4 linked regions of the Homo sapiens genome follow. The protein of the gene in region 4 interacts with the protein of the main gene of each other region in a pairwise test. Each region holds a gene or a part of one and is shown on either strand. Other genes may lie near its edges.

Evidence for each region. The genes of interacting proteins can lie anywhere in the genome.
Region 1: the proteins of MIA3 (region 4) and FXR2 interact in binary tests that used the Homo sapiens proteins (3 or more experiments, as listed by UniProt).
Region 2: the proteins of MIA3 (region 4) and PRDM14 interact in binary tests that used the Homo sapiens proteins (3 or more experiments, as listed by UniProt).
Region 3: the proteins of MIA3 (region 4) and MTNR1B interact in a two-hybrid assay, tested with the Homo sapiens proteins (one large-scale study listed by BioGRID and IntAct).

The regions. Positions count from the first base shown.
Region 1 is NC_000017.11:7,603,885-7,608,397, forward strand, and holds part of FXR2 (RNA-binding protein FXR2), read right to left. Parts: intron 2,266-4,513; coding exon 2,213-2,265; intron 1,855-2,212; coding exon 1,761-1,854; intron 197-1,760; coding exon 125-196; intron 22-124; coding exon 1-21. UniProt on the Homo sapiens protein: mRNA-binding protein that acts as a regulator of mRNAs translation and/or stability, and which is required for adult hippocampal neurogenesis. Specifically binds to AU-rich elements (AREs) in the 3'-UTR of target mRNAs.
Region 2 is NC_000008.11:70,063,740-70,068,252, reverse strand, and holds part of PRDM14 (PR domain zinc finger protein 14), read left to right. Parts: coding exon 1-23; intron 24-1,747; coding exon 1,748-2,018; intron 2,019-4,513. UniProt on the Homo sapiens protein: Transcription factor that has both positive and negative roles on transcription. Required for the maintenance of embryonic stem cell identity and the reacquisition of pluripotency in somatic cells.
Region 3 is NC_000011.10:92,979,651-92,984,295, reverse strand, and holds the end of MTNR1B (melatonin receptor type 1B), read right to left. Parts: intron 2,850-4,645; coding exon 1,984-2,849; 3' UTR 1,514-1,983; downstream 1-1,513.
Region 4 is NC_000001.11:222,649,046-222,654,573, forward strand, and holds part of MIA3 (transport and Golgi organization protein 1 homolog isoform 1 precursor), read left to right. Parts: intron 1-1,246; coding exon 1,247-1,335; intron 1,336-1,588; coding exon 1,589-1,666; intron 1,667-1,747; coding exon 1,748-1,858; intron 1,859-2,931; coding exon 2,932-3,003; intron 3,004-3,182; coding exon 3,183-3,287; intron 3,288-3,962; coding exon 3,963-4,085; intron 4,086-4,182; coding exon 4,183-4,294; intron 4,295-5,197; coding exon 5,198-5,253; intron 5,254-5,343; coding exon 5,344-5,434; intron 5,435-5,528.

The sequences.
Region 1 (4,513 bases), on a different chromosome or scaffold from region 4:
AGCATATTCAATGACATAGAACTGGCACATGGTAAAAAAGGAGAAGTTGTGGATGACCTGAGCAACTTTCTATGAATAACATATTTGTTTCAGTAGTTCTCCAAAGGCATTCCCAGTCACTCACATCTCCCTTCATCATCCGCACCCGGGCCAGCCACCAGCCACAAGGTTCCTGTTCATTGGCTCGAGAATAAACCTAAAGAAAAGTAGAGAATCAAAGAGATATTGAAGACCACCCAAAAGCATCAAGAAAGGGATGAGGAGGCCGGGCATGGTGGGGCTCACACCTGTAATCTCAGCGCTTTGGGAGGCTGAGGCAAAAGGACTGCTTATGCCCAGGAGTTCAAGACCAGCTTGGGCAACATAAACAATAGAACAACCATTAAGATATTTGGGGCTGCTGGGCACAGTGGCTCAAGCTTATAATCCCAGCACTTTGGAAGGCCAAGGTGGGAGGATCTCTTGAGCTCAGGAGTTCAAGAACGATCTGGGCAACACAGTGAGACCCCACTTCCACGAAAAAAAAAGAGGCCAAGCGCGGTGGCTTATGCCCATAATCCCAGGACTTTGGCTGAGGTGGGCTGATCACCTGAAGTCAGGAGTTCAAGACCAGCCTGGCCAACATGGTAAAACCCCACCTCTACTAAAAATACAAAAATTAGCCGGGTGTGGTGCCACATGCCTGTACTCCAAGCTACACAGGAGGCTGAGGCAGGAGAATCACTTGAACCAGGAGGTGGAGGTTGCAGTGAGCTGAGACCGCGCCACTGCACTCCAGCTTGGGCAACAGAGTGAGACTTCATCTCAAAAAGAAAAAAAAGGTATTTGGGATGCATCTTTTTTTTTTTTTTTTTGAGACAGAGTTTCGCTCTTGGTGCTCAGGCTGGAGTGCAATGGCACAATCTCAGCTCACTGCAACCTCCACTTCCTGGGTTCAAGCGATTCTCCTGCCTCAGCCTCCCAAGTAGCTGGGATTATAGGCGCCCGCCACCACGCCCAGCTAATTTTTTGTATTTTTAGTAGAGATGGGGTTTCATCATGTTGGCCAGGCTGGTCTTGAACTCCTGACCTCAGGTGATCTGCCCCACTCGACCTCTCAAAGTGCTGGGATTTCAGGTGTGAGCCACTGCATCCAGCCTGGGATGTATCTTAAACCAAGGATACAAGAAACCAGAGGAAGGAACTAATTAAAATCAGAGGACGGCAGGGCATGGTGGCTCATGCCTGTAATCCCAGCACTTTGGGAAGCTGAGGCGGGTGGATCACCTGAAGTCAGAAATTCAAGACTAGCCTGGCCAACATGGTGAAACCATGTCTTTACAAAAATGCAAAAATTACCCGAGCATGATGGCAGGTGCTTGTAATCCCAGCTACTTGGGAGGCTGAGGTGGAAGAATTGCTTGAACCCAAGAGGCGGAGGTTGCAGTTAGCTGAGATCGCGCCACTGCACTCCAGCCTGGGCAACAGAGCAAGACTCCATCTCAAAACAACAACAACAACAACAACAAAAAAATCAGAGGGCACTGGATTTTAGATGTTGTTACCATAAATGGAAGGCAAATCGCCTGAAACTGGGGATGTTCCTGAGAGTTTGGCTGATCACAACAGTGATAAAAGGGGAACTGTTGCATTTTACATTTCCATAGGCTACATGGCTGGATATGGCTTAGTTGGGGAGGAAGGAACATGAACCAACCAGAGAAAAGCCTAGAATCCTGGGGAAAAGTGACATTTAGAAAGGTGTACTCCACAGCCCTTACCTCCACTTCATCCCCTTCTGTGATCTCCTTATTATAGTCAGCTGGAGGTGGTAGCCGGACATCCCCAAAAGGAATTTGTCTCTCACTCTGCCAGCTATAATAGAAACAATAATATGAAAAAGCTACTCTGACTGATATGGTTGCCCATTTCTTTACAAAAGGGTTATTGCCTCAGCTGGGCGAGTTCCACCTATCTGGATAATTAGAGGCTAAACCCCAGGCCCTGCTCCATAGTAGTGTCTTCCATCTCTTTCTAGACTCTAAATACTGGGTCAAATGCCCCCACCCTCACCAAATTCTCAGCCCTTTCCTCTCCTGGGATCCATATGAGTTCCCACCCAAACCCTCAGCTCTCCCAACCTATTACATGCCTCATAGGACTCAGCTGCCCCCTCTTCTCCACTCTCCTTCTAGGACCTAGTATGCTGGATTCTCTATTCCCAAGGTCTTACTTGTTTTCAAAGAAGATGGTGACAGAGTCTTCATGGACATCCTTCACAAAGCCCTAGAATGGATTTTAGAAAAAAGCAAAAAAAATAAAATGACCTTTTACTTCCACCTTAGCCATCAAGGGAATAAGACACCACAAAACCTTAAACTTGAGTTTTAGATAGGGACACAAGTGGTGTAATGAGACAGCCTGAAAGGCTGCACTGGGGAAAGAATATGGGCAGTCAAACAGAGAAAGGAAATGATATTGTCATGGAGAGGTGTATGTACCACCTGCATCAGAACAGCCTGGAAACCAATGATCTACTCAGGCTCCCACAGGGGCCTCCCTATCTGTCTGCCTCCTGTTGTGCTAAGCAGCCTGCCAGAGTTCAATTAAAATACCAACAACATTCAGCAAGGCTAAGAATATCCCATGAGACAGTGTGAGGCTGTCCTGGAACACCTAGAGGACATGAGGATCTGTCGAGAGAGAAGGGCCTACCTCCGCAATACAGCAAGAGATCTGAGCAGACTCGCTGCCCTGATGCATGGGTCCTAAGACAATAATCGGAACACTAGACAAGTTCAAAATTGTGATGAACACAATTTACAGAAGGAAAAATTAAGACTTAATTTAAAAACATCGGTTTTTTAATACTAGAATTGAATCTAGAATGACACTGATAATTTATAAAGGATAATAAAATTTATGGAAGACTCCAATCTTGATATTTTGACAAGAGCAAGAGGGATGACTGAACAGCTGATCCACCTCCTGTGGTCTGTGTCCTCACTAAGGAGGCCAAAGCCATGCATTCACCCCTATGCTCCCAATTTTTCTACCTTCTCCCTATTTTTCACATACAATTAGGGATTTCTAATTTTGAAAAAGGTCTAGCTTATGAATTTATTATTTTATCAACTGTGCTTTTGGTTTCATATCTAAGAAATCTTTGCCCAGGCCAGGCACAGTGGCTCACGCCTATAATCCCAGCACTTTGGGAGGACGAGGCAGGCAGATCACCTGAGGTCAGGAGTTCGAGACCAGCCTGCCAACATGGTGAAACCCCGTCTCTACTAAAAATACAAAAATTAGCCAGGTGTGGTGGTGCATGTCTGTAATCCCAGCTATTTGGGAGGCTGAGGAAAGAGAATCACTTGAACCTGAGAGTCAGAGGTTGCAGTGAGCCAAGATCATGCCATTGCACTCCAGCCTGGGCAACAAGAGCAAAACTCCATCTCAAAAAAAAAAAAAAGAAAAAGAAAAAGAAATCTTTGCCTAATCCAAGGCCACAAAGGTTTTCTCTTATGTCTTCTTCTTAAACTTTTAGTTTTTTGTTTTACATTTACATCTATAATCCTTTATTTTTAGACAGAGTCTCACTCTGTCACCCAGGCTGGAGTGTAATGGCGCAATCTTGGCCCACTGCAACCTCCACCCCCCGGGTTCAAGCAATTCTCCTGCCTCAGCCTCACGAGTAGCTGAGATTACAGGCAACCGCCACCACACCAGGCTAATTTTTTATATTTTTAGTAGAGACGGGGTTTCACCATCTTGGCCAGGTTGGTCTCGAACTCCTGACCTCAGGTGATCCATCTGCCTCAGCCTCCCAAAGCTGGAATTAAAGATGTGAGCCACTGTGCCCAGCCTATGATCCATTTTGAATTAAATTTTATATATAAGGTGAGGTATTGATCAATGTTTTTTAAATTTTTAAATTCTTATTTATTTTTTTGAGACAGAGTTTCGCTCTTGTTGCCCACGCTGGAGTGCAATGGTGCAACCTTGGCTCACCGCAACCTCCGCCTCCCAGGTTCAAGCAATTCTGCCTCAGCCTCCCAAGTAGCTGGGATTACAGGCATGGGCCACGACCCTGGCTAATTCTGTATTTTTAAGAGAGACAGGGTTTCTCCATGTTCGTCAGACTGGTCTCAAACTCCCGACCTCTGGTGATCCACCCGCCTCAGCCTCCCAAAGTGCTGGGATTACAGGTATGAACCATCGCACCAGGCCACTTTTTTTTATTTTTAATATATTTTTAAATTAAAATTTTTTTTTAATAGAGACAGGGTTTCGCTATGTTGCCCAGGCTGGTCTTGAACTCCTGGACTCAAGCAATGCACCCGCCTTAGCCTCCAAGAATGTTGGAATTACAGGTGTGACCACTGTGCCCAGCCCATTTTTTACCTAAAGATATCTTGTTCCAGCACTGTCTGTTGAAGACTATCCTTTCTGGCCAGGGGCGGTAGCACACGCCTGTAATCCCAACACTGGGAGGCCGAGGCTGGCAGATCAGCTGAGGCCATGAGTTCGAGACTAG
Region 2 (4,513 bases), on a different chromosome or scaffold from region 4:
GAGACAATTCTGTGATGTGGGAGGTAAATCTGTTTCTGGTGGGTCTGCTGCTGAAAATGGGGCGGGAGACTAGTCCGGGGAAATCTTGGCCTTTGCCCTTTTGGGAGAGTCCTGGTCAGAGAGAGAGGACATCCAGGGCAGATATCTGTGGTTTGTGTTGCCTGTAAAAGGAAGGAACGGCCAGTGTTTGCTCCATGAGGATAGCACCTCTGCATGAATTCTGTGTTTTGTGGGTGCCTTAAGTCATTTTAGTCTGGAAGATTAGCAATGGAATATACATTTAAAGAATCAATATGTTGTATTATATTTATAGACAAAACTAAATGCTTTAGATATTATAGAGTGCTGAAACTATGCTAAAGAGAATAAAAACAAGTTTTAAAATTCAATATTATTCACCTATAAAATTAGTCAAGGATTAAAAAAAAAATAACCAGATACTCTTCAAGATCTAGTGATGATATATTAGGGATATGCTAGTGGGACTGCAGTTTATTACCTGCAGGAGAAAATTTGTCAGAATGTATCAGATACCTTAAAATGTTCAAAGTCCCTTGACCCTGAATTTCTACTTCTAGGAATATAGTACAGGAAAATAATCTGAAATTGAGGCTATGTGGAATATGTTAATCCTAGGGTTGTTTATAATAACAAAATGTTGGAGACAGCGAAATTGCCAGCAGCAGAGAAAGAAGTAATCTTTCTTTGTTTTTTTTTTTTTGTTTTTTTTTTCTTGAGACGGAGTTTTTGTCTGTTACCCAGGTTGGAGTGCAGTGGCGTGATCTCAGCTCACTGTGACCTCCACCTCCTGGGTTCAAGCAATTCTCTTGCCTCAGTCTTCCGAGTAGCTAGGATTACAGGCATGTGCCACCATGCCCGGCTAATTTTTGTATTTTTAGTAGAGAGGGGTTTCACCATGTTGGCCAGGCTGGTCTCGAACTCCTGACCTCATGATCCGCCTGCTTTGGCCTCCCAAAGTGCGGGGATTACAGGTGTGAGCCACCAGGCCCGGCCTTGAAAGAAATAATCTATAGCTCCATTAATATGCATGAAACCTAACTGGGAGTAAAATATAAAACTATTCAGTTGTGTTTAAGTGGTGGAATTAAATAAAACCTTTTTGTTTCACTTACCTCTGCTTATGAAATTAACATGTGCTCACTATAGGAATTTGGGAAGCAAGAAAGTGATAAAAGTAAGAATCTTTTAGAATATGTCACATTAGGCAGGCTCAGTGGCTTACACCTGTAATTCTAGCACTTTAGGAGGCCAAGGTGGGAGGATCACTTGAACCCAGGAGTTTGAGGCCAGCCTAGGAAAGAGTGAGGCCCTGTCTCTACAAAAAATTTTTTTAAAAAAATTTGCCAGGCGTGATGGTGCATGCCTTTAGTTCCAGCTACTCAGGGGGCTAAGGTGGGAGGATCATTTGAGCCCAGGAATTCGAGGCTACTGTGACCTGTGATTGAGCCACTGCACTCCAGTCTGGGCAACAGAGTGAGACTCTGTCTCTGAAAAAAACAAACAAACCCAATATGTGACATTACCTAGAGAGGTGTCCTTAAACTAACAAATCTATGTTGGCATAAGTAAATTTATAAACTACTTGTAATGACATAAAAATCAGAATGATAGAAGTGTATTTGGTGGACTCAAGTGTGATATTTAGGTTACAAGTATTAAAAAATTTATTTTATAGATTAGACCAAAAAAGAAGTACAATACAAACTTCATGTCTTATTTCATTTAGATCTTTGAAGATGGTCATTTGAGCCACTTTATAGATGGAAAAGGAGGTACGGGGAACTGGATGTCCTATGTCAACTGTGCCCGCTTCCCCAAGGAGCAGAACCTAGTTGCTGTGCAGTGTCAAGGGCATATATTTTATGAGAGCTGCAAAGAGATCCATCAGAACCAAGAGCTCCTTGTGTGGTATGGAGACTGCTATGAGAAATTTCTGGATATTCCTGTGAGCCTTCAGGTCACAGAGCCGGGGAAGCAGCCATCTGGGCCCTCTGAAGGTGAGTGCACACCCTCGCCTTGCCCAATGAGGGCATCCCAGTAGAAGGACTGGGCTCTTTTCCACAAACCCTCCATGCACAGCTCCTCCCTCCTAAAGGCTAATGCAGAGGACTAACCGAGAGTGTCTCTAACCAGGGGGGAATTACCCAGGTGAAGGAAAGCATCCTCAATTTCCCAAAGCTGCGGAAGCTACTCCTATTTATAAAGATATATACTCCTATTTATAAAGACTTGTTCTTCTTCCCTACCTTCCACCCCAAGAGTAAAAGAAAACGTACTAAATGGATGTAACTTCTACCATAGGTGAGCCAGTTTCTGATTCATCTCTGCCCAGGCTAATGTAGCTGAAGTCTAATCACTAGAGCAGTGTTTTTCAAATGGTGGGTTGCAGAGTTGCATGTCTTAGTGGGGTGGGAAATCAATTTAGTGGTCAAGACCCACATTAAAAAAAAAAAAAAGTATAGAGTAGAATAGAAAATATTGATGGGAATCCCTTAAGAGTAAGGATTGTTTTGTGAAATTTCTATTTCACATGGGTATATGTGGGTATGGTGGGTGTCAAGCATAAAATACATTGCCTACTATGGGTCTCAGGCAAGTTTGAGAAATACTGAGCTGGACTCTCACTCTCAAACTTTAATGTGGGAATGAATACCCAGGGATCTTCATGATGCTGGTTCTCATTCAGGGTAGGGGCCCAGGATTTGGTATTTTTATCAACTTGCAGGGAGTGCTGCTGGTCCTGGTCCCTGGTCCACATTCCAGTAGCAAGGGGCGAGGGAACCACCAGCCCACTCTAGGGGTGAGACTTTGGAATTTGCATGTTAAATAAGCTCTCCAAGTGATTTCTATATACACTGAAGTTTAGGAACTACTAATCTAGTAGGTGGGACAAGATAAATGTAAATTCCTGTAAATAAGAGAGAAGGCAGGCCGGATACTGTGGCTCACACCTGTAATCTCAGCACTTTTGGAGGCGGAGATGGGCGGATCACTTGAGGTCAGGACTTCAAGACTAGCCTGGCCAACATGGTAAAACCTCATCTCAGGTCGGGCACAGTGGCTCACGCCTCTAATCCCAGCACTTTGGGATGCCGAAATGGGCAGATCACCAGGTCAGGAGATCAAGACCATCCTGGCTAACGTGGTGAAAACCCGTCTCTACTAAAAATACAAAAAATTAGCGGGGCGTAGTGGCACACACCTGTAGTTCCAGCTACTCAGGAGGCTGAGGCAGGAGAATCATTTGAACCCAGGAGACAGAGGTTGCAATATGCCAAGACCGCACCACTGCACTCCAGCCTGGGCAACAGAGTAAGACTCCGTCTCCAAAAAAAAAAAAAGAGAGAGAGAGAAGGCAAATTATTATGATGTAATAAATGTGTAAGGAGCAGGTTTAAAAAAAAAATGGCCCAGGCGTGGTGGCCCACGCCTGTAATCCCAGCACTTTGGGAGGTGAGGCGGGCGGATCACGAGGTCAGGAGATCATAGCCATCCTGGCTAACACGGTGAAACCTCTTCTCTACTAAAAATACAAAAAAATTAGCCGGGCGTGGTGGCGGGCCCCTGTAGTCCCAGCTACTTGGGAGGCTGAGGCAGGAGAATGGCGTGAACCCAGCAGGGGGAGCTTGCAGTGAGCTGAGATTGCGCCACTGCACACCAGCCTGGGCGACAGAGCGAGATTCCGTTTCAAAAAAAAAAAAAAAAAAAGTAAATTGCATCTGCATGCCTGTTTTCCTGCTAGGCTGAGATGCTTCAGGGCAGGAAATAACCCTAAACACTTTAGTATCTCGTGCTTCTGGATCCCAGTGCGTACTGACTGAGAGGAAGACATTAGAACTAAGCTAGAAAAAGCTGCTTAGGGATGAGATGAAATAAGGCACGTGTAAGAGGGAGAGAGGGAAGGCAATCAGGCTCAGGGAACAGTGAAGCAGAAGGCAAGGAAATGTCCAGAAATTAGGGGGTAAATAATAAGCAGTCATTATTTATCTAATGATAAATAATGAGCAGTCAGCCGTCATTATTTATCTAATGATAAATAATGGTCCCAATGATGAGGGGCTGTCAGGATTGTTTTGGTGAACTATCTTCCTACTCCCCCAGGTATCTTATGTCCATGCTGGGTTCCCCCCGCCACTGAACCATCATAAGCCCTCATTCTGTTGCTTGTTCTGATCGCCTCTGATATCTGCATACAGGTTGAGTATCCTTTTTCTGAAATGCCTGGGACCAGAAGTGTTTTGGTGGGTGGTGTGGGTGTGGGAATGTAGGTGAAGATAGGAATGGAGGCAAAAATGGTTGGGATTCTCTATGATCTGTGGAGCTCTAAGTTGTCTCCTACTTAGCACCAAACCAAGACCTGTTGGTCACTTCCTGAAATGTACCAACTCCTTTCGAAATAAAAGTCAACAGGCTGGGCGTGGTGGCTCACACCTGTAACCCCAACACTTTGGGAGGCCAAGGTGGTTGGGTCACCTGAGGTCAGGAGTTCACG
Region 3 (4,645 bases), on a different chromosome or scaffold from region 4:
CTTGTTGTCAGAGCCCAGAAGATTTGCATTTTTAAGCAAGCTCCCAGGTGGCTAGGGGACTAAGCACAGCACCCAGCCTAGATTCCTCACATTGCAAGGCCAGAAAGAGGATCCAGCATAATGCTAAGAGGTCAGCACACCAAGAAAATCCTGGGTTCTTCATTCAGGAAAGCCGCTGGGTGGCTGAGGACCCCAGGCACATTGTGGACATGCAGTACTTAGCCCACTGCACTTTGTCCCTGCCACATATTCCGAGGTGGGATGATGGGGGATAGAAGTAGGGTGCTGTCATCAGACAGACTTGAGCTCCACATCTAGCTCTGAACATAGCTATCTGAATTCTGGCAATCATTCCACATTTTTGAGTTTCAGTTTCTTACTATGAAAATTGATCATAGTATCTTTTTCCAAGAGTTTTGTGGGGATTAAATGACATAATGCATATCAAGCCCTTACCACAATGCCTGGTACATAGAAAGCACCAATGGATATTACTTGATACTAATTTATCAACAGACTGTGACCTTGCAGAGGGCAGGCAACAAACCAGTCCTGGCCCACAGAGGGCACTCAGTGTTTGTGGAACTGAAGAAAGCTATTAATTCTGTTGGCGCTAAACAAAGATCTGAGATTTCTACGAATATAAAGTCCACAAATACATAACCATAGAAATGAATTGGGGTGCAGCTGCCCTTTCCCCACTTCCATGTCCCCTACCCCATTTTCTCCCCTTCCCTTCCTGTCCTTCTACTTCTTCTTCTTTTTTTTTTTTTTTCTGAGACAGGGTCTTGCTCTCACTTTGTCACCCAGTCTGGGGTACAGTGGCACAATCTCAGCTCACTGTAGCCTCAACCTGCTGAGCTGAAGTGATCCTCCCACCTCAGCCTCCTGAGTAGTTAGGACCACAGGAATGGGCCACCATGCCCAGCTAATTTTTGTAGAGACAGGGTTTTGCCATGTTGCTTAGGCTGGTCTTGAACTCCTGGGTTCAAGCTGAGGCAGGGGTGAGGCACCGCATCCGGTGATAGCCCTTCCTTTCTTTGTATATGACTTTTCTCCTTCATTTTATGTAGTTATAATAATAACAAAAGCTAATGATTACTGCCTGCTAGCCACATGTCAGGCACTGTCCTCAGCTCTGCAGATGTGTTATCCCAGAGAATCCTCACAACAACCTGGGAGGCTGACTACGGCATGATCTTCACTTTAAGATGAGTAAACTGAGGAACAGGGAGGTTAGGAGACTTTCCCCAAGTCACACAACCTGAACATGATGGAACCAGAAAAGGAGGCCAAGCGGACTTTGTGCTCCAGATGCTGGAGCAGTGTGACTGTGTGTGTGTGTGTGGGGGGGGGGGGTGCAGTGTGTTTGTGATGTGGTGGCTATGTGTGTGTAACATATGTATGTGTACACAGTGTATGTGTGCATAGTGTGGTGTGTCTGTGGTGTGATGCATGTGTGGTTGTGATTGTGTGTGTGTAGGGAAGGTCAATGGCGGAGTGTGGAATGCTTGCCCTCTGCACCTGCCCCACCTGAGGCCCTTGCAGTTACCAAGTTCCAGTCCTACTGACCTCTCTCTTTCATCCTTGCTAACAGGAAGAGATCCTGCCACGCTGGGGGGAAGGGGAGAAAGCAGCCAGGAGGCCAAGGCAGGAGGATGAGGGTCAGCTATGAGAAGGAGTTGGGCTCTTCTGCCCCAGGCCTTTCCTCATTCTGTCCTTTCCTTGGTCTTGTGTGCACCAAATCCCCAAGACACCACCAAGAGTGTTTTCCAGGTCCTGTGGCCTGTGAGCATCTCCTGGATCAGCCTGAACCCATGGCGTTGATGGGCTGCTTGTCCCAGCATGAAGTTCCCCCAGCCTTGGGGCTGTGATGCCAACAGGACAGTGTGGCCCAGCAGGCTGCCTGGTCTCACCCTTGCAGCAGACTCTCTCCCACCATTTCATGAGTTTGTCATGCTGCTGGTGTGCCTCAGATCCAGGCTAGAGAGCATCTGCCTGGTGCTGCACACCAATGATGGGTGGAGCTGGGCTCTGCAGCCCCTCCGCGTGGCTGCCCTTGGAAGCATCTTGAATGCAGTGCCGTGGGTTCCAAAGGGCCAAGAGGATCCTCTTGTATTCCCTGCGGAAGTTTTGGTTCAAGAGCCCATAGACAATGGCATTCAGGCAGCTGTTGAAATAAGCCAGTAAGTAGCTAGTGACAAATAGCCCCTCAGGGATCTGGGGAGCCATTTCTTGGGGGTTGATGGCCACAGCGAGGCCGATGCAGTTAAGTGGAGCCCAGCAGATGGCAAAGATCACAAACACCACAAACATGGTTAGAAAGCTCCGCAAGTCGCTGGGCTTCAGGCACAGCCTGCTCTCTGGCTTGGCTTTCCTGCGGGCCTGAAGCACCAGCACCCAGATGCGCAGGTAGCAGAAGGACACGACAGCGATAGGGAGGAGGAAGTGGATGACCACCACTGCCGCCGTGTACTGGGTGCTGGCGGTCTGGATGAAGGTGCAGGAATAGATGCGTGGGTCGTACTCCAGGGACCCCACAAAGAAGTTGGGCAGCAAGGCCACCACGGTGAGGAGCCAGATGAGGCAGATGTGCAGAGGGGTGTGCCAGCGCCGGTAGATTCGGTGGTAGGCCATGCTGTGGCAGATGTAGCAGTAGCGGTTAATGGCGATGGCAGTGATATTGAAGACAGAGCCGATGACGCTCAGGCCCATCACAAAGGCGCTGGCCTTGCAGTGCTCCTCCCCCAGGGCCCAGCCGTCATAGAAGATGGCCACGAGGATTAGCGGGTAGGGGTAGAAGGCCACCACCAGGTCAGCCAATGCCAGACTCACCAAGAACAAATTACCTGAAGCAGCAAACAGAGCAACAGTCAGCACGAGACCCCACGACTTAGATTCTGTAGAACATCCTACCCTCCACGAAGTTACTTTTGGCAATGTGAGTGGAAACCAAGTGGCTCTTAGAGGCACAGAACTGAAGACTCAGATTGCATTTCTGCCACTCACTAGCTATATGACTGAGGCAAGCTGTTTAGGCTCTCAGAGCCCCATTTTCCTCATTTGTGAACTAGGGGCAGTGATACCTACCTCATAGTATAGCTGTAAGAATTAATGATACAAAGTGCTCAGGGATTTAACAGGTGCTGACACATGCTAACTGTTTCCATGATAGGCACAGATGCTCACGGGCTTTGCACCATTTAAGCTCCAGCAAAGATTTCGGAGGAGGAGAGTCTGAAAGTCAGGAGTGTGGATTTCTCATCACTATCATCGCTCCCTCACATTCCCTCACCTCCTCGCACATCTCTCTGGTTGTCTCCTTTTGCATTTTCTCCCCACTGGTTAACAGGCTACTTTCTAAGTGTCTTTACATGGGTTTTGTAAATGTGAATTGCATTTTGCAGCTGGACTAGAAGAAAGGTGTTGAGAGTGGGAACCATGTGTTTCTGGTATTCCCATTTGTGCCCTGTCTGGGTCCAGTACTCCCAGCCTTGTGGCCATGTTGACAGACACTTGCAGTAGCGGCACAGAGCCCCAGCCCTGTGGGGTGAGAAAGGGCTGTCAGCACTCCTAAGCTCACAGCCTCTGGGGGGCCTCCCTGCTTTGCCTGCACCATGGTGGCCTTCCTGGACTATCTAGGCATTTATCCTTTGAATGGAGCCTTATCCAACATCACCAAGCTTGGTCAACCAGAGAGAGCCTCAGGAAATGATACACCCATCAATTAATATGCTTCAGGCATGTTCTAAGCTGGAGTCCCAGGGCAGAGGCAGGGCTTACTCTAAAAGAACACAATCTCTGCTCCTCAAGTGTTTGCGTTCTAAAACCAACACTGACTCACGAATAGAGCACCAAGAACCTAAACGTTTGGGCAATACAAAGCTCATAGTGTGAGCAGTTCCATCACTAATGCCAATCTTCTCATTCACCAAGTGTTGTACTTTTTGAATACCTACTGTATGCTCAAAAGATAACAGACTCTCCCTCCAGCAGGGTCCCTGAGTGATGCAATGTGCACTGGGCATGGTATTTTAAATTTTCTGGTCTCTTGCCACATGGTGAAGCCTCCAGCCTTAGGGTGGCGGAATGCAGAGGGCGGCTGGGATGGTGTGCAGGAGGAACTCCCAAGTCAGCAAAGACACAGACATGGAAACTCCACAGCCACCATGTGTCTGTCCCATTGCCACAGAGGCTGTGGTGGCTTTGGGGGTCTAGAGGGTCAGGCAGGTGGAAAGAGCCCCCAAAGCACAGCAATTGGAGAGGCCAGGCTCTGTGTGGATTCCACGGGGTACAGAAAAAGGGAGGCTGAGAGCCGCCCAGCTGGGATTTCACCTGAGTCAGCCCTTCAAGTGAAGTAGATGGCACACCTGGACTTATTCACCCACAAGGGTAGGAAAAGGACTGCCTCCAGCCTTCCCACATTCACCCCATCTCAAAGAAGATTCCCCATAGCATGGTCCGAATGGGGATGGGAACTTGAAAGACCCTCAGGAAGCCTTCATGAAGGGCCTATTTTGACCTCAGAGGAATGGGGTCAACCCCACTGAGAACCCACACAAGTCTACTGGAGTCCTGGGAGTTCTCAAGACCTAACTATAATACTACTGTGTCCACAGCTAGGTTAGGAAACCAGGGAGACAGG
Region 4 (5,528 bases):
AGGAACGAATTGTGGGAGTAGGGAGAAGATCATTAATTTGGGGCAGATTGACCTTAAATGTTGATGTAGTACCAATTTATTACATGTGACCAGTGTCCCTGTGCTAATGATTTAGTCAGTACATTAAATATTTATTTAAGTAGATAATTTGAGAACTAGAAATATAAATCAGCACGCCTGCATTTTCTGTTTCTCTTTGCAAATGACATATTTGAAGTGATGCCATTTTCTGAGAAGAAAGATGCTTCATGCAGGGAGGAATATTGAGCTATAACATTTTACTGTATTTCCCATCTTGGAAATAAATTAAACTCTCATTGAAATAAAGGTTCTTATTATATTTTTCTTAAATTCTAACCGTATTTTTACATCCTTATTCTTGTTAGCAGATTGCTTTTTGTATTAATCTGTTCTCACACTGCTATAAAGAAATACCCAAGGCCTGGTGTGGTGGCTCATGCCTGTAATCCCAACACTTTGGGAGGCCAAAGCGGAGGATTGCTTGAGCTCAGGAGTTCGAGACCAGCCTGGGCAACATGGAGAAACCCCATCTCTATAAAAAAAATATAAAAGTTAGCTGGGTGTGGTGGCACACACCTGTAGTCCCAGCTACTCAGGAGGCTGAGGCAGGAGGATTGCTTGAGCTTGGGAGGCGGACTTTGCAGTGAGCTGAGATTGCACCACTAAACTCCAGCCTGGACAACAGAGCAAGACCCTGTCTCAAAAAAAGAAATACCTGATACTGGGTAATTTATAAGAAGTTTAATTAGCTCATGTTTCTGCAGGCTATAGGAAGTATAGCGGCATCTGCTTCTGAGGAGGCCTCAGGGAGCTTTTACTCACAGCAGAAGGCAAAGCGAGAGCAGGCCATCTTACATGGTGGGAGCAGGAGCAAGAGAGAGTGAGCGGGGAGGTGCTGCACACTTTTAAAACCAGATTCCACAAGAACTCAGTCACCATCACAGAATAGCACCACAGGGATGGTGATAAACCACTCATGAGAAATCTACCCTTATGATCCAATCACCTTCCACCAGGCCCCACCTGAACACTGGGTACTATAATTTGTTATGAGATTTGATGGAGACACAGAACCAAACCATATCACTTTTTAAAACCATAATAGTTATGCTGAGAAGTTATTTTTTGTCATAGTGCAAGATAACATGTCTTTGCTGCTGATACATTGGGTAATTCAATTTCATTTAGTGATCATAATAACCTTATTATTTTTTTCTTTTTTCAGTCACGGAACAGCAAATTTCTGAGAAGTTGAAGACTATCATGAAAGAAAATACAGAACTTGTACAAAAATTGTCAAATTATGAACAGAAGGTATGATTATTCTTTGTTTTTTTTTTTTTTCATGGTCCCAGCTTGAATTATTTGTCACCTATCTTATAGTTCAGTTACTATGGTATTTTTAAATAGTATTTATTATTACATTAATTCCTATAAACCATCCAGATCTTAAGCAGTCATATGTGTAAAGTACTGTTTTCTTCTGTAAGAGGTCAGTCACTTGAAAATAAGTTCTGGTAGCACTATACTTTATATTTCTGGATTCTGAATGCTTTATTTTATATAGATCAAGGAATCAAAGAAACATGTTCAGGAAACCAGGAAACAAAATATGATTCTCTCTGATGAAGCAATTAAATATAAGGTAAAAACTTCTTTTGGGGATTACATTTTAAAACAAAAGTAAAAGTAATGAGTATAACTAACCTTAATATCTTTTTTGTAGGATAAAATCAAGACACTTGAAAAAAATCAGGAAATTCTGGATGACACAGCTAAAAATCTTCGTGTTATGCTAGAATCTGAGAGAGAACAGAATGTCAAGAATCAGGACTTGGTAAGAGTTTTGCTGCTAAGTATTACTAATAATTTGGGTTTTGAACTCTTTTGTAGATTGAGTTGAACTCTTTATTTTCCATGCTGTTATGTGAAGTAAGAGTGCGAGTCAGGGAAGTTGAACCTACTTCTGTCCATTTTTGTGGAATTTTAAGTACTTACACAAGAAATTATTCTTACAGGCCTAGGAAGTATTTTGGTTCTCAACCCTAGGTAATTGTCATATTGCTTGGCTCTGCCCTCCGAAACATGTGGAACAACTAAGAAACCCAGTTGAACAGTCCTTGTGTTTTGTTTTGTTTTGCAAAGTTTTTTTTTTTTTTTGCTATAAACATTTTATTTTATTAATAGAATAGTTTTAGAATGACCTAAAAGTTGCAAAGATAGTAGAGAGGGTTCCATAAATCCCACACCCTATTAATCTTGATGACCTCGTTGAGGTAGTATTGCCAGGTTTCTTCACTGTAAAATTACTTTTTTTTTTTTTAAACTTTTTGCATTATTGTACTCTTTGGAAGGAAGTTACTATCGCAGCCCACAGTTAAAAAGTGAAGGGTTATGCTCCATCCTCTTGAGGAGCCAGAATCTTCATAAATTATCTAGAATTCTATATGGGTGATCTGTCTATTCTCACTCCAATCCTACCATTTTTAATTTAGGCAAGAGCAATTGGTGTTTGACAAAACAATTGTCAAATTGTACTAAATTAAAGTACCTTGGGGATTATTTTTTTCTCTTGCCACAAGAAAAAAAAAAGTCACATTGATTTGAACTGGTTTACTTAAAAGTTTTTTCAGTTTCTTTTCTTTCACCTTTTAGTCTGGTCATCTACCACATTTTATTCTAACCAGGAAGGTTGTGTATGCTGTGAAATATTTATGCCTTTGATTATTTTCCCTTACCTCTTTAAGTTCTTGATTTTTCCCGAGGGCAAAACTGAAACACCTGCTTTTACCTGAAACATAGGGGATGGCTCTGGGACATACTTTGTTGATGTTTCTTCTTCTTAGTATGTATCCCAGTGTTTCTACTAAAATCCTAATATGCATTTTGTGTTCTGTTTTTACATGGCAGATATCAGAAAACAAGAAATCTATAGAGAAGTTAAAGGATGTTATTTCAATGAATGCCTCAGAATTTTCAGAGGTAAAGCTGACTGTAATTCCTGCAGGATATTAATACTATATCATAGTTTGATTGCAGAGCAAAAATTTGATATATGCTAAAATGTGCAAAAAATGAAAACTACATGATGTTGGGTTGGAAAAGTAACTTTTTCTGGTTTTCTTTGGAATTAATTCACTAATAGGAGTGTTTTGCATTAGGTTCAGATTGCACTTAATGAAGCTAAGCTTAGTGAAGAGAAGGTGAAGTCTGAATGCCATCGGGTTCAAGAAGAAAATGCTAGGCTTAAGAAGAAAAAAGAGCAGGTAAAGGAAAGTGCGTGTCCCAGGTCATGTAAAATAGAGAACTCAGTATCATACCTCATGAATGCCTTTACTCAGATCTATTTTTAGGGTAATATATGTGCAGGATTCTGTTCTTAGATATGCAAAGTTTAAACTATGCTTCCAAAATTGAGTGTAGGTATACATTCTCTATCTGTTCTGGATTTTCTGTTCTGTACAATTTATTTTGGCTATCAGAGTGTGTAGTCTTGTTTTGTCAGACACCAATTGCTATTAACTTGAGTAGCCTCGAGTGGGTAGTAGATTGGCTTTTTAGACCCAAGAGTTAGATATTTTATAACCCTCCTTTGAGTAGTTACTGCTTCACTAGCCAAGGGAAGGTTACATGATCAGGAGTGTGGACTTGGGAGATAGTAGGATGAGCCCTTCTGTTCCTTCTGGAAGTGAATTATTTGAATTGGCTACAATTTTCTGAAGGATGCAATAAACAAGATCAATTTCCTTGATAGCTCTGATGTTCTCACTACAGCTCTGAGGGTTGGGGCCACTGTCTCCTCCCACTTAACCAAGGTCTTAGCCCATAGTGATAGGCCAAGGAGAGGCATGGTTCCTTATTTACCTGTCTCATTCATGTGGTCCTAATGTCTCCAGTGCAAAAGCCCTAACCTGTGGGAATCATGTGTTTTAACTTTGCAGTTGCAGCAGGAAATCGAAGACTGGAGTAAATTACATGCTGAGCTCAGTGAGCAAATCAAATCATTTGAGAAGTCTCAGAAAGATTTGGAAGTAGCTCTTACTCACAAGGATGATAATATTAATGTAAGTGCGTTCATGAATACAAGCTTAATTCTTGTGAATTATCAAATCTGTTGAATTAAATGGAAAGACTCTTAATGCCCTTTTACTTCTTTTCTAGGCTTTGACTAACTGCATTACACAGTTGAATCTGTTAGAGTGTGAATCTGAATCTGAGGGTCAAAATAAAGGTGGAAATGATTCAGATGAATTAGCAAATGGAGAAGTGGGAGGTAAGATCAGCCTCAAGGAGGATGGACCCCTTTTGCCTTCCTGTCTTTAAGTGCACCAGTGCTACTTTTCAGCTGGCTGCATTTCCTCTTAAGCTTTCGAGGTGTAAATACATTGGATTTGAATGTGTGTCTGTTTGCATTGGGCAGAGGTGGATTGCTAGGGTGAGGTGTAGCAGTAAGCATGCAGTGAACACTGACTTTGTTTTCACATTGAGACTAGAAGGGTGCACGGGAGCTGCACTGGTCATGTCTTACACCTCTAAGTATTGGACACATACAGTAGTAGAAACTTGTTTTTCAATTTCATGGAGATAACATTTTAAAACTTGTCATCTCAGTAGCTGTGTGGTTTTAAGGCCCACAACTGGTTTTAAGAGTACTGAGGTGGTTGGAGGCATAAACTGACTAAGGCCATGAAAGAAAACCACAACTGGTTTTGAGAGTACTGAGGTGGTTGGATCCATAAACTAAGGCCATGAGAGTGGAGGCTATAGTGTTGCAGTGTTTACTGATGAGGAAAATGTTTCTAGATGCCCTCTCTCAAGTTGGATATTGCTTGTGTAGTGGGTGTTTTAAACCACACCTGGTAGTAGATTCTGGAGGAGAATAGGAGGGAATCTTTCTGAATAAGACACTAAGCCCAGATGGAAGAAAGAGCTTTATCTCACATGTTTCTTCTTGCTCAATAATGGCATGTATAACATGTTTATTGTACAAATGGGAATTCACTTTTTCAGTCTTAAGTTTGCAGTTCTCTTAAAAGTCAGTCTAATCCTTTTCTGTTTTTGTTTGTTCTTTAAATGTTTGAACATGACAATTGTTTAGTTTTGGGTAAATCAAGAAAATATAGATTTAAAAAGCAAGGGAAGAAAAAGCAATGAAAGAAAGCCTTTTGTTTTTTAGGTGACCGGAATGAGAAGATGAAAAATCAAATTAAGCAGATGATGGATGTCTCTCGGGTATAATCGTTTTTAGAGTCCCATAATTGCCTGTGAATACTTTTACTATGCCTCACTTTTATGAATACTTGTCTCTTCTGCAATTTTTAGACACAGACTGCAATATCGGTAGTTGAAGAGGATCTAAAGCTTTTACAGCTTAAGCTAAGAGCCTCCGTGTCCACTAAATGTAACCTGGAAGGTAGGTTGCTTCTTGAGAAGAAATTGCTATATATTGGAAAGATACAAAATTGCATTAGAAAGATAAAGAGCGGCTTCCTGCTTTCATACTTCTC